Linked DNA regions of Homo sapiens. The protein of the gene in region 2 interacts with the protein of the main gene of each other region in a pairwise test. Each region holds a gene or a part of one and is shown on either strand. Other genes may lie near its edges.

Region 1 (7,027 bases), on a different chromosome or scaffold from region 2:
AGGAAGAAAATCAAGAGAGTGTGATGTCAGAGAGCCAAAGGAGGCTGGATATGGAGGCTCATGCCTATAATCCCAGCACTTTGGGAGGCTGAGACAGGAGGATGACCTGAGGCCAGGAGTTCGAGACCAGCCTGGGAAACATTAAAAAAAAAAAAAAAAAAGAAAGCCAAAGAGTCATGTTTGAGAAGAAAGGAGTAATAACGTCAAAGGTAGTTAAGACTGCAGAAAATAAAGACTGGGAAGGAGCCCGGTGAATTTGGTTACTGACGTTAGCAGAAGAATTTCAGGAGAGGAGAGCGGAGGTGATGGTCGGGCTGAAGCAGGCCAGGGAATCCATGGGAGGGCAGGAAGCAGAGACAGAAATGGAGCTGGCTGTTTGGGGACATCTGGGATGAGGCAGGAAGAAGCCAGCGCTGCAGCTAGAGAAGGACACGATGTCTACAGAAAGCTTTGCTCTTTTGTTCTTAAGATGGGAGAGACTTAAGCACGTTCGTGGACTGAGCCAACAAGAAAGGAAATGTCAAAGCTACCAATGAGAGGCCTGTGGATGGCAGGGGCTGGAGAGCAGAGGGCCTCAAATCAGGATCTCAGGCTGGGTACCAGCAGGAAGAGGGTCACTTCATCCTCCAAGATGTGGGGACTAGATGGTGTGTAGCCTGGAGCGAATGGGAGGAGGCTGAGTGGGTTCTCACCTGCCGGCCTTGGGGTCTTCATTTTGTTTTGTGTGAGTGTGTGAAACCCGGCAGGGAGTTCTTTGTTGAAACTATGGAGGTTGGAGGTTTGAAAAGAGTGAAAAGGTTTAAAATCGTGATGATAACAGAGGGAGCTGATGGACAAGTAAATGTGTTGACGTGAGTCATCCTTCATTCTTTTCTTTCCCTCACTCCGCCTCTCCATCTATCAGCAAGATGTCTGTTCTGCTTCTATTTCCTGGGCCGGGCCACTTCTCACCACCTCCACTCCTACCACCCCGGGCCAAGTCACCAGAATCTCTCTCCTGAATTTCTATCATAGTTTCCTTACAAGTTTTCCCGCTTCTTCTCTTGCCCCTTCTAGTCCTTTCCATATACCGCAGCCAGAGTGACCCTTAATACAACATAAATCAGATCATACTATTCCCCCACTTAAACCATCCAATAATTCTCACAGTGATAAGAATAAAATTGGGCCAGACACAGTGGCTTATGCATGTGATCCCAGCACTTTGGGAGGCCGAGGCGGGCAGATCACCTGAGGTCGGGAGTTTGAGACCAGCCTGACCAACATGGAGAAACCCCGTCTCTACTAAAAATACAAAATTAGCCAGGTGTGTTGGCGCATGCCTGAATCCCAGCTACTTGGGACGCGGAGGCAGGAGAATCGCTTGAACCCAGGAGGCAGAGGTTGCGATGAGCCAAGATCGTGCCACTGCACTCCAGCCTGGGCAACAAGAGCACAACTCTGTCTCAAAAAAAAAAAAAAAAGAATAAAACCTAAATGCCAAGCTATGTTCTGTGAGACCCAGTGTGACACTTCCGTACTTTCCCTGGGTTCATGTGTTCCAGCCCCTCTGGCTAACTTTGGTTTCATCCGGGCTGGTTCCTGCCTCAGGGCCTTTGCACTGTCTCTTTCCTTCCGATTGGGAAGCTCTGGGGGGATCTTTCCCATAATTCACCTCAACAGTCAAGTGTCACTTCCTCAAAGAGACCTCCCCTGCTTCTAAGGGATCACCGCCTCCAACCCCTTAACCTGTTTTATTTTCCTCATTGTATTTATCAATAACTGAAACTACCTTACACATTTCTACTTGTGTAAGTCCTTCCCCCTCTTAATCTTAGAATAAGAATTCCAGGAGAACAGAGGCTTTGTTCAGCACATAGTAGGCACCAAATAGATATTGGCTGAATGAATGAATGAAAAGGCAGTGTTAAGAGCCCAATGGAGATTAGAAAATAAAACGGCAACGGCTCAAAGCCACACAGTTGTGTGATTTTCTTCAACAAGGACCATAAAACTATAAGATTGATTTTTTCCTACATGCCTGTTCTGGAGACAATTTCAAACAGGAGCCGGGTGGCAGAGGCATCTTTGTGAAAAGCAGTTAGACTCCCAGGGCGACCAGTGTGGATGTTTATGTTCTTATTTATTTTGCAGAAATGCCCTCGATTTTCTCGTCTTCTTATACGTGGGTTGGCACGTTGTGGGAGGAAATTGCTGACTCTGTTTCCAGCCCTAAAGCTAAGCCGTATTATACAGGTGAAATCAGGTTACTGAGACAGGTCTGGTTTCCTTGGTGACCTGGGAGCTTTAGTTATATTTGAAATTGCTAAGAAGGGGAAAAACCTGATAACAGCAGTTCTGTGTTTTCCTCAGGGAAGGAGCGCTTTTCAATCCTCAGCCCAGGCTGAGGACGTGCCTTCCTGATTGGCAAGGGCTGAGGTCCCACCTCTGGTGGGATGACTGACACTTTTTACCTGCTCCCAGGATCCCACAACCTAGTCTGGCAAGTTTGTCCTATGCCAGCTCCGGGTGACTGCAACCTCAGGATTCCTCAGGCTCCCTGTGTGTTTTGGTTTTGCACGTAAACACTGTAACTAGGGGGACCAGCAGTTAGCTCATTGTAAAATGTGCAAACCACCTTTCTTCTGGTGGGGATGACAACGAAGGGCGTGTTATTTTACAAATGGTAGGGCGACCCAGTTAACTCTTTCATGTTTTCTTTCCTTCTCAGTTGGTTTGTCAAATTTAAGCCCTAATGCCACTGGTGGACAAGGGCTCCATGCCGAAAACTGAGGGAAGTACTTTTACAGTGTTTATTTCATTTCATTTTCATGATAATACTAGAAGTGGATACAACCATTATCCTCGTTTTTTTGTTTTTGTTTGTTTGTTTTTGAGACGGAGGAGTCTCGCTGTGTTGCCCAGGCTAAAGTGCAGTGGCGCGATCTCGGCTTACTGCAACCTCTGCCTCCCGGGTTCAAGCGATTCTCCTGCCTCAGCCTCCCGAGTAGCTGGGACTACAGTGCCACCACGCCTGGCTAATTTTTTGTATTTTTTGTAGAGACAGGGTTTCACTGTGTTAGCCAGGATGGTCTCGATCTCCTGACCTCATGATCCGCCCGCCTCGGCCTCCCAAAGTGCTGGGATTACAGGCATGAGCCACCGTGCCCAGCTATCCCCGTTTTTTTTTTTTTTTTTACAGACGAGGATACAGAGAGGTGAAGTGGCTTTTGCTAGTTACATACCTAATCGGTGGGTTTGGATTTTAGAAAACTTTTACTGCTTATCATACGTTGATGCTGTATTCTGAATTCTCTCTAAATACTGCAAGAGAAGGCAGAAGACCATTCTTGCTTTCTGCAATTACCTGATACTCAGAGTCCACCTTATGCTGCATGTCCCGCAGATACTGAACATCGCTGAAGAACTTCTGCCTGTCCCTTGCGTCATGCAACATGATTCCTAATCCCTGACCTGCACAGAAAAGATAAACAAATGTGCTGTGTTAGAGTCCTTTGTCGTGATGCCGTATTTGGATTTATTTTCATCTAATTGCTTTTATTTGTGTATTCATCTAATTTCCCTTGTTTGAAAGGCACAGATGCTCCTTTCAAGCTGAAGGGACTTCTTGTGTTGCTGTTGATGCCCTTACAGTCCTCCTGTTCCAGGCATAAATAATGCAGCCACCTTCATCAAGCACTTCAGTGATCCTGTCCTGGTTACTCAGAGGGAGTTAGATTGACAGACACCTGATTCGGTTCTAGAGCATGACAAAAAGGAAAACCTGAGAGCCTAGCTAAATAAGCAGTGACCAAAGTTACAGGCCCCTGGTTACTTAAATTCATTTATGCAACAATGATTGCACCGTTATTTCCATCCAGGGACTGTGCTGGACACTGGAGTATAGCAAGCAGCAAAGCAGACACGACCCTCATCTTTGCTCTTTTTTTCTTTTTTCTGAGACGGAGTTTTGCATTTGTTGCTCAGGCTGGAGTGCAATGGCCAGTCTCAGCTCACTGCAACCTCCGCCTCCCGGGTTCAAGCGATTCTCTTGCCTCAGCCTCCCTAGTAGCTGGGATTACAGGCACCTGCCACCACGCCTGGCTAATTTTTGTATTTTTAGTAGAGACAGGGTTTCATCGTGTTGGCCGGGCTGGTCTCGAGTTCCTGACCTCAGGTGATTCACTCGCCTCAGCCTCCCGAAGTGCTGGGATTATAGGTGTGAGCCACCGCACCTGGCCTGTGTTGCTTATAATCCAGGGTGCGAGACTGACTTTGAGCAAGTGAATCCTAACTATGATAGGCCCTCTGAAGCAGAACTATGCGGCTCTTTGAGAGCGTTATTATGGGAGGGCATAACCTGGTCTGGAGGGGTCAGGCAAGGTTTTCCTTAGGCAATGACACTGGGTTTGACAGAGTGAGCTAGCTGAGAAGTGGGACAGAGAGGACAGCAGGTGCAGAGGCTTCAGGCATGAAGGAGCAGGTGCAGATGAGGCAGACGGGAGGGAAGCAGTGCAGCTGGAGCAGAGATGAGGAAGGAACAGCCCCGGAAGGGCTGCAGGGGAGGCAGGGGCCAGCTCCCATGGGGCCTCAAAGGTCATGATTCAAAGAGTCATGGGAAACTCCTGAAAGCTTCCAGTCTGGGAAGTAAATGATTAGATTCGTGTTTTTATTTATTTGTTAATTCTTTTTCTTAGAGACAAGATCTTGCTCCGCCATCCAGGCTGGAGTGTAGTGGTGTGATCATAACTCACTGGGTATAGTGGCTCACGCCTCCCGAGGTGAATCACTTGAGCCCAGGAGTTTGAGATCAGCCTTGGCAATATAGCAAGACCATTTCTATTTAAAAGAAAATTGAAAATTAGCCAGGTATTGTGATGCATGCCTATAGTCCTACCTACTCAGAGGCTGAGGTGGGAGGATCGCTTCAGCCCAGGAGTTAGAGGCTGGAATGAGCCATGGTCATGCCACTGCACTCTAACCTGGGCAACAGAGCAAGACCCTGTCTGTATTTAAAAAAAAAAAAATTGTATTTTAAAAAGATCCCTCCAGTTGCAGTATGAGAATGGATGGGGTGGGGGTGATGGTGGTAGAGTAAAACAAAGAAGTGGGAAGACCATTGGGAATATTTCATAGTAATCTAGATGTGATAAGATGGCAACCAGCATCGGGTAGCAACAGTGGAGAGAAAAAGGAGGAGGAGGTGGAGGACAGTGGGGAGGGAGAGGGGATCATAGCTACTCTTTTTTATTTTTTTTTGAGATGGAGTCCTGCTCTGTCGCCCAGGCTGGAGTGCCGTGGGGCTATCTCGGCTCACCACAACCTCCGCCTCCCAGGTTCCAGCTATTCTCCTGCTTCAGCCTCCCAAGTAGCTGGGATTACAGGCACGTGCCACCACACCCGGCTAATTTTTTATTAGTAGAGGCGAGGTTTCACCATATCGGCCAGACTGATCTTGAGCTCCTGACGTCAGGTGATCTGCCCACCTTGGCCTCCCAAAGTGCTGGGATTACAGGCATAAGCTACTGCGCCCGGCCCATAGTTACTCTTTACCGACCCTCTGGAAGGGATAGGCCTTGTTCTAAGCAGTTACATCAATTAACTCATTCAATCTTCTCAACAACGCAGTGAGGCCAGCACTAGATCTCTATTTCGCAGGTGAGGAAACTGAGGACCAAAGGGATTAAGTAACTTCCCTAAAGTTACGGAGCTAGTGAGGGGAAGAGTCGGGATGTGAACCCGGAGACTCGCTCCAGTACCCACACTCTTAACCAAGGGATTCAAGGGATGCTCAGGACAGAAAGTCATCAGGGCTTGCGATTATATGAATGGACCAGGGGTGGAAGTCTCAGGGATGCCCAGGTTACTGGCTTGAGCAGCCAGTGGGTTGGTGCCAGCATTCGCTTCAGAAAACACAGGAGGAGCTGCTTTGTGAGGAGACAGCATGGCGTCACAAGTGTCTGCGGTGCGGCAAACGGAGATGTCAAGTGTGCTGTCAGACGCAGGGCTCTGGAGCTGACCGGAGAGGTACAGATTTGGGCACTGCTGGCATTCTGTGATAACTGAAGTTGAAGGAAGAATGGGAACGAAAAGAGAAAGAGGACACAGGGACAAAACCTCGTGAAGAACACGAATATTTAGAGAACAAGCCGCTGAAGAGAAACTCTGCGGAAAAAAAAGAAAAAGCCAGAGAGGCAGGAAGAAACCAGGTGGGTGCCGTTTCAGAGATGCCCAGAAGAGAGGGTTTCAAAAAGGAGGCTATTAATAACCTTGGTGAGAGCATTCATTGGAGTGACGGGGCTGGGAGGGCTGCAGAAGGTTGCGTAAATGGGAGGCAAAGGCGTGGAGATCATGCTTTCAAGAAGTTTGGCTTTGACTGGCATGGCCCAAATTTATGGCCAAGATATCTAAGCTCACAAAGGGATAAAATGGCACTGTTAATAACGACCCCTCATCTATGGGGTCATCAAAGCCCCCACACTATTCCTGTTTGTTGTCTACTGAAGCTCTTTCATTTATTTCTACACACACACACACACACATATTTTTTACAACTGCTGTGTGTGACAAGGGCTGCTAGGCTCTGGGGAAACATCAGGATGGGACAGGCGACATCTCTACCTTCAGGTGTATACGTTCTGCGGCATTCCCTCGCTCCTCCTGTTTATTCAGTTGTGCAGATATTGGCAGAGTCAGGCCGCCCCGGACTCATGGTGACCCAGCGTCTGGTCTGGTAGTTATGAAATCTCACATGGTTTATCATCTGGCCCTGAACAATGGGGAAAACTTGTGCTCGTCTCTTGGGGGCTATTTTCTCTGGAGTATGGAAAGTTGGTCTTTTGACAGTCAGAATCTGAAACTACAATCCAATGTGTATTTCCAGTCTACACACAAAACATACATTTTGTCTCTAAGCATTTTAATAATCACTTATGGGACTATGTTTTAAAAGATCACTTTTAGCTTTTCATCTGAATGTGTACCTGCATAGAATGAAGTTACCTTTGCACTCTTTTCAGAAAACGATGGTGTTAAAACAGGCAGAAGG
Region 2 (6,918 bases):
CATTTGTGAGTCAGTACAGCTTCAGTTACCATGAGCAGTAGGTCACAACAAAAGAATGTGATTTTGTCATTCAAACGTATATGAATGTTCTATTGCTTACATTAGATTCAAAAATTCCCAGATTAAAAAAAAATTAAATAGATACACAAAAAAAGATCCCTAATCTGTGAAGTAAAGCTATAAACACCAAAGGTTATTAAATTAAAAGAAATTATATATCTTAAATATATAAACTCAATAGCTCAATAAATGTAAGTAGCCGTTCCTTATAATAGTATATCAGGAATTTTAAAACTCTTTTAAATACAAGGTATATTCCTTGAAATATCACACCTTTCTCAAACAGTGTAGGCATTAAAAAAAAAAAAAAACCACTGCAATAACATATTCAAGAAGTAGGATAGCCCACATGTATGAATCTCAGGTAACTGAAGCTTATAGTCCCTGAACAACTTTTGCCACATACACCCCAAAGTCATCTCTGACAAATTTTTCTAGGAGATTTTACTAATTTCCTTGCCTTCTTTAACACAGTAGACTCAATATAAATTAACTTCTTATTATTTTCAATATGCTCTAGCAGCTCTTCCCCAGGGAACTTCATTTAATTCTGGAAAATAAGAGAAATTCCACTAAAAATGGTAGTGGCATGTTTATTTGCATACTTATTTATATGCAGCCTGCAGACATAAAAGGATCTAAAGCGTCTACAATAAAATATGCTTCTGTGAAGTATTTTAATTATAGCTTTTTCTCTTTTAAGGTTTTTATAAAGAAAGTTCTGGATTGGTACACTTCACTCTGGGTTTCTTTGTAGTATTCTTGTACTGGGATGACTATCACCTGTGAGTAGAGCTTCAAACTCTTGACGTTATGAGTAGTGAGTTTATGGTTTTGTCACCTGGGCGACACTGCGAGACTCCGTCTTAAAAAAAAAAAGAGTGCCAGAACAGTATCAGCGACCACAGGGAGGAAGACCAATGCAGAACAGTCTTGTTTGAGGAAAAGAGAGTTTACCATGATTGTAACCTTTCTCAACTGGAGTTACCAAAATAATTAAGCCCTAATACGCTGGCGTTAATATGATAGACTTATTTCCTATGTTTGTAGGGTGGCATTGAATTATCCTTGGGAGAATTGAGAAAATAGTCTCTCAATTTTCCTGTGTACCATGGTTCTGAGAGGAAACCCTGGTTGAGAGAGTCATTTTATACTGACTTTCAGTTGATAGACAACTGTACCAGTAGCTCATTTCACTGTGCAAATGTTATGAATGCTATAATTAAGCACCCAAGAGTTGGAATCAATTCAAGTAGTTCATTCATTACCTATTAAGGAAAAGACGTCTAAGCTGTTTTTCCAACTGCAAGTGATCTAACTTTTCATAATATAAACCATACATATTTCTGAGCACATCCTAAAACGATCTAAACAGGTAAAGTTTCTTTCAGTTGAGATTTGTACTACCTTCAGAATGACATTTTTAAGTAAAATGAAGTGCAATTTTCAGCCAACTTAAAAATGCTTTGTTCCTGTCTGTTACTTAGGAAGACACATAGGGCTAATGTTTTAAGGAATCGTATTCTAGTTTAGATAAAATAAATACACGCTTTTCGACCTCAGTGTAAGTGAAAGATACTTGGTGCATGACCAGCCCTATTTTAAGGCTAATACAAAAATAGGCTCTAGATTTTTCTATTAGAACCTTTAAGGAAGGTGAAAAAAATTGATGTATTTGTCCCAAGATGATTAAGAATTTGAAACAGAAAAATAGATTATGTCATGCTTGAATATAAGTAAACTCTAATTGCTGAAATCTGTAATTAATATCTCATACATAACTTATAGAATTATAATTACATCTCCCCGAAAGAATTACCACTCTTCACAGCATTTAAGTTTTTGAATCAGTGTAAACAGTTTTAGGTCCACTTTGCAACACTCAAAAACTAACAGTTTGAAATTTGCACAACAGCCTAAAGAAAGAGGAACTGTCCTGGAATAAAAGAGAGTGGACAACTGGCAACAAAACACTCCTGAATGTGACAACGCACATTCTCCACAAAAGCTAAAACTAGAGAAATCGACACAATAACCATGTAACCCATATGCAATCTCAAAGGAACAAAAGATGAAATAAGTACTGTAATGATATGCCCCAGAAACACCGAAAAGTTTATTTCTTTGCTCTAAAATCGTGAGCTGATAGTTTTGCTCGGTACACTTGCATTGTTTCAATTAAAATGGTCAGTCCCGGGTATGAACTTCTTCGTTAGTTAGCTGAACAATGGGATCTCAAGGAACTACTGGCTTTTTATGAACGAATGCAGTGGTTTCTAGCACCTGCTTATTTTAACGTTTTGCTGTCATTTCATTAGCATCTCCCCTGCGGGCTGCGTGAACTCCGCAAATCACACATCCTACTGCCTTTCCCGGCGGCAGCCGCACTGAGTCACCGGCCCCGGACCCCGCCCTGCAGGGCATTCCAGCTGCTTCCAGCAGGACCCGTTCCGCAGGCCTGCGCCTCACTCTTGCTGCGCCAGGACTGCAGAGGGACATGGTAAAAACGGGGGCTGAAAGACCTCTCGCAACAGCCTTTTAGGACAGACTCAAAGCCTTCCTCCCTGAGTTTTATCTGTAGGACCGAAACAACAAAATCTCAGAGGAACCCACCAACCACAGCAGGCCGCAGCCGCGGCGACCCCGGCCCGCACACACTGCGCACGCGCGCACACACGCGCCCTCCGCCCGGTGGGGGTTCGCCCAGAGGTTGACAGAGGAAGGTGGGTGGGGGCCTAGAGCGGTGGGTCATGGCTGGCTGCACCCGCAAACTCACTCACCTCCGTAAACGGATCCATCGCCCCAGGCGTCGGACTACGAGACGATGGAAACGGTGGTTCAAATTCAGGAAGAGAAAAGTGAGTCTCAGCTCAGTGTGTCTCCTGGAAAAAACCAGGAGTCTGAGGCGGGGGAACTCTCCCACAACCAGCTGTCCTCTCCTCTCGGCTTCCAGTGACGGACTCGGCCTCTGCAGCCGTTCAAATTTGAATTTCAGCGCCGAGCCGCGAGCATGCGCGCTGGGCGGAGCCGGGGCGCCCTCTCCCCGCCCCTGCGCTCGGTCACGTGGCCGCGCCGGGCCGGGTGGTTCCCAGGGGCGGCCCCGCCTCCTTCCCGGCCCCCTCCCAGCCCTCGCCGCGGGGTGGAGGCGGGCAGCGGGGCGCTTCCTGCTCTCCAACGGCGTCGGGTTCCTGGCTCCACCCCCAACAACCACACATTCCCCTCAGCTTTAAGGCGATTGCTTCACACCAACCGCGTTTGGGTGTTCCCGCCTTCCTTCATTCCTAAATAAAGTATTAAGGCCGGGAGTAGTGGCGCATGCTTATAATCCCAGCATTTGGGGAGGCTGAGGCTGGAGGATCGCTTGAGCCCAGGAGGTCATGGCTGCAGTGAGCTGCGATCTCACTACTGCACTCCAGCCTGGGCGGCAGAGTGAGACCCTGCCTCAAAAAAGAAAAAAAAAGGATTAAGAGCCCTTGTGTTGGCAGGACATAATCCCAGCACTGTGGGAGGCCGAGGCGGGCAGATCACGAGGTCAGGAGTTCAAGACCAGCCTTGCCAACATGGTGAAACCCCGTCTCTACTAAAAATACAAAAAAATTAGATAGGCATGGTGGCGCGTGCCTCTAATCCCAGCTACTCGGGAGGCTGAGGCAGGAGAATTGCTTGAACTGGGACCCGGGAGGTGGAGGTTGCAGTGAGCAGAGATCACACCACTGCATTCCAGCCTGGGCTACAGAGCCAGACAAAGAGCCCTTGTGTTTCAGGTGCTGCTAGCCCGTTGGCCTTCAGTAGCTTTGTTTCCTAGGTCACACCCAACTCCTAGTCCCCAAAAGGGGGACTGCAGGCCTGGCCCTCAGAAAAGCCAGTTCCGGTGGGTCCCCGACACTCTAAGCCAATGAAATAAAGCTAAAATTAACAGACTGTGTGAAGCGTTCATGCACAATTTTTTATTTTAAATTCCATCCAACTGTGTACAGTGTTAGAGCGGGAGGAATTCTGACAAGCCCTCTATCTAGTTCAATCCTTCCTTTTACTGCCGAGAGAAGGGACACCCGAAAACGTTAAAGAAACTGGTCCAAAGAAATGAAAACCCTGTTCTCAGCTCATGACCCGTTTTCCACACTAGCTAAGGCTGTGTCTCCTGCTTATTCTTTGTAGAGTACTCCAAATTGTAAGATAGGTTACATAATTTCTGTATCAGATTCATTTCTTCTATAACAAGTCTGTGCAGGTAAAGATGACAGTTCTTGATTTGTTCATCTGAAAAGTTAAGAGTGACTGTCCATGAGCTGAACAAAACAGAACTATTCCTCCCAACTGAGTGGTTTCAATATGTTTAATAATATGTCCATCTTAGCAGTCAATCAACATTACAAAAAGAATTTACTAATATTTTTAATTTGAATTTTTGTATGATAAATTGTACGTGACTGAAATCACGGCAAGAGGTAAGGGAAATATTGCTTGGGGTCAGGGCTCCACCCAGTTAGCCAAATCGGTTAACCCATGGGTTTTTTTTTTTTTTAACCTTTGTGGGGAGTCATGGACTCCTTTGGAAATATGTTAAAACTGACCCTCTACCTAGAAAAATGACCATTTAATCATAAACTATTTAACAGGATTTTGTGAAGTTCATGGACACCAGGACAAGAACTTCTGATTTAGCCTGTTTGTATTTTAGTTTACTTATCTGTGTAACAGGAATAATCATCTGCCCTGATTTCCTCAGAGTTGTTAGGAGGGGCAGATGAAAAATGGAGAGACATAATCCAAAAATATTTCATAATAAGTAATAAGACACTGTCCGAGTGTGTAGTATATGGAATTATTAATATTTAACCCAGAATGTGTTACTTATGAACAAAGGAAAAAGATACTTCCATTTTTTTCAAGTGTGACAAGAAAGGTGTGTATGTATTTGGGGCGTGTCTGTGTGTGTATGCGTGTTTTAAACAACGTTGGAAAATGAGTCATTAGAAATTTATGTAGCCGTTGTGCCTTCTGGCTATCACTTCTATGAGCCTTAGTTTCTTTGTATCTACCTCAACTAGATTCTAGTTAAGACTAAAAGAGGTAAAGCACCTAGCATAAGATAGCTACTCACAACATTTAGTGTATCTTCCCTCACCATCCCACTATGTCTTTGGTTTCTACCTTGATAATGATGATGATAGTGATAATGGCAACCATCACAATTAAATAACTCCTAAGACTGAAACACCTACTATGTGCCAGAAACTACGGTAGATATTCAAGTCTACTCTCCTAGGGTATTACAATTGTCTCCTACTATACCTCCTTTCATTCTTAACCCCCGGTAGTTCATTCTTCAGTTTCTAGGCTAGAATGACTTTTATCTTTTTAAAAATTGTGTTATATAACAAATAAAAAAATTTGAAAACAAAAAAATTATGTTATGAAATACAATAAAAATGTGAATAATAAAACATAACCATATACCAGCCACCTAGCTTAAAAAAATACAAAACATCCCACATGTAATTGAAGTCTCCTGTGTGTCCCTTCCTATTCTCATTCATCTTCCCACTCTTCCAGGGTAAAACTATCTTGATTTGATGTTTATCATTCCCATAGAAATATGTATACTTTTATCACATCTACATATATATCCATAACAATATCTAGTGTTTTATATATAAATTTTATTTGCAGAATGTAAGTCTTTCTGCAACTTTTTCTGGCCCAATAATATCTTTATGGGATTTATCCTCACTAATAACTGTAGCTGCATTTCATTCATGTTCACTGCTAAATTTTATTATACAAATATACTTGTAATTTATGTACCCATTATCCTGTTAATGGACATTTAGCTTATTTCCAGTTTTTCATTCCAAAGACCCCATGATGCCATGACTATCCTTTATATGCACATGCAAAACTTTCTCTAGAGCAATATACCTAGGAATATTATTACCAGATATTAAAAATAAACTGCTCTTCAAAATGGTCATAACAAATGATACTCCAGTCAGTAGTATATGCCCCTGGCTGCTGCTCTAGTTCCTCCCCAATATGTGGATACATTTTAAATTTTGCCATTCTTGTTTGAGTGCCTTTCTCTTATCACTAGTGAAGGTGAACATGATTTTTTATTTATTGGACTTTCAATTTTCTTTTTCTGTGATTTTCAACTTTATATCCTTGCCCATTTTTCTGTGCAATTATTTGCCTTTTTCTTATGGATTTATAGGGTTTTTGTTGGTTGTTTACTATTTTCTGGGAAAATAAACTTGGTTGGTTTTTCGGCTTGCCAATTTTTTGGTTTGTGGCTTGTCTTTTTACTTTATGATGTTTCAGATGTACAGAAATGTTTAATATAACTAATGATACACACACACACACACACACACACATACACACATACACATACACATATACCATATATATTTTCCTTTAGGATTTGTGTTTTTTATGCCTTAAGAAATCCTTCCATACCCTGAGATAATAAAGATGTTCTGCTGTACTTTCTTCTAAATATTTTAAAGTATGGCTTTTCATGCTTTTGTCTTTAAACTATCTGGATTGATCTTGTTTTTTGTATGGATAACCAGTTGTCTTAGCAGCAGTTATTAAATTGTCCATCCTTTCTCTCATTGACCTGTAATGCCACTTTTATCATATATCAACTTTTCTTTTTTTTTTTCCCGAGACAGGGTCTCGCTCTTTCGCCAAGGCTGGAGTGCAGTGGCCTGATCTCGGCTGACTACAACCTCTGCCTCCCGGGTTCAAGCGATTCTCCTGCCTCAGCCTCCCAAGTAGCTGGGACAACAGGCATATGCCACCAAATCTGGCTAATTTTTGTGTTTTTAGTAGAGTTGGGGTTTCCCCATGTTG

What was found.
Region 1: the proteins of ANLN (region 2) and MARCHF10 interact in binary tests that used the Homo sapiens proteins (3 or more experiments, as listed by UniProt).

What each region holds. Positions count from the first base shown.
Region 1 is NC_000017.11:62,798,300-62,805,326, forward strand, and holds part of MARCHF10 (probable E3 ubiquitin-protein ligase MARCHF10), read right to left. Parts: intron 6,749-7,027; exon of another isoform or gene 6,601-6,748; intron 3,454-6,600; 5' UTR 3,437-3,453; coding exon 3,347-3,436; intron 1-3,346. UniProt on the Homo sapiens protein: E3 ubiquitin-protein ligase. E3 ubiquitin ligases accept ubiquitin from an E2 ubiquitin-conjugating enzyme in the form of a thioester and then directly transfer the ubiquitin to targeted substrates.
Region 2 is NC_000007.14:36,385,967-36,392,884, reverse strand, and holds the start of ANLN (anillin), read right to left. Parts: upstream 3,024-6,918; 5' UTR 2,919-3,023; coding exon of another isoform or gene 2,859-2,918; coding exon 2,841-2,858; coding exon of another isoform or gene 2,811-2,840; exon of another isoform or gene 2,528-2,810; intron 1-2,527. UniProt on the Homo sapiens protein: Required for cytokinesis. Essential for the structural integrity of the cleavage furrow and for completion of cleavage furrow ingression. Plays a role in bleb assembly during metaphase and anaphase of mitosis.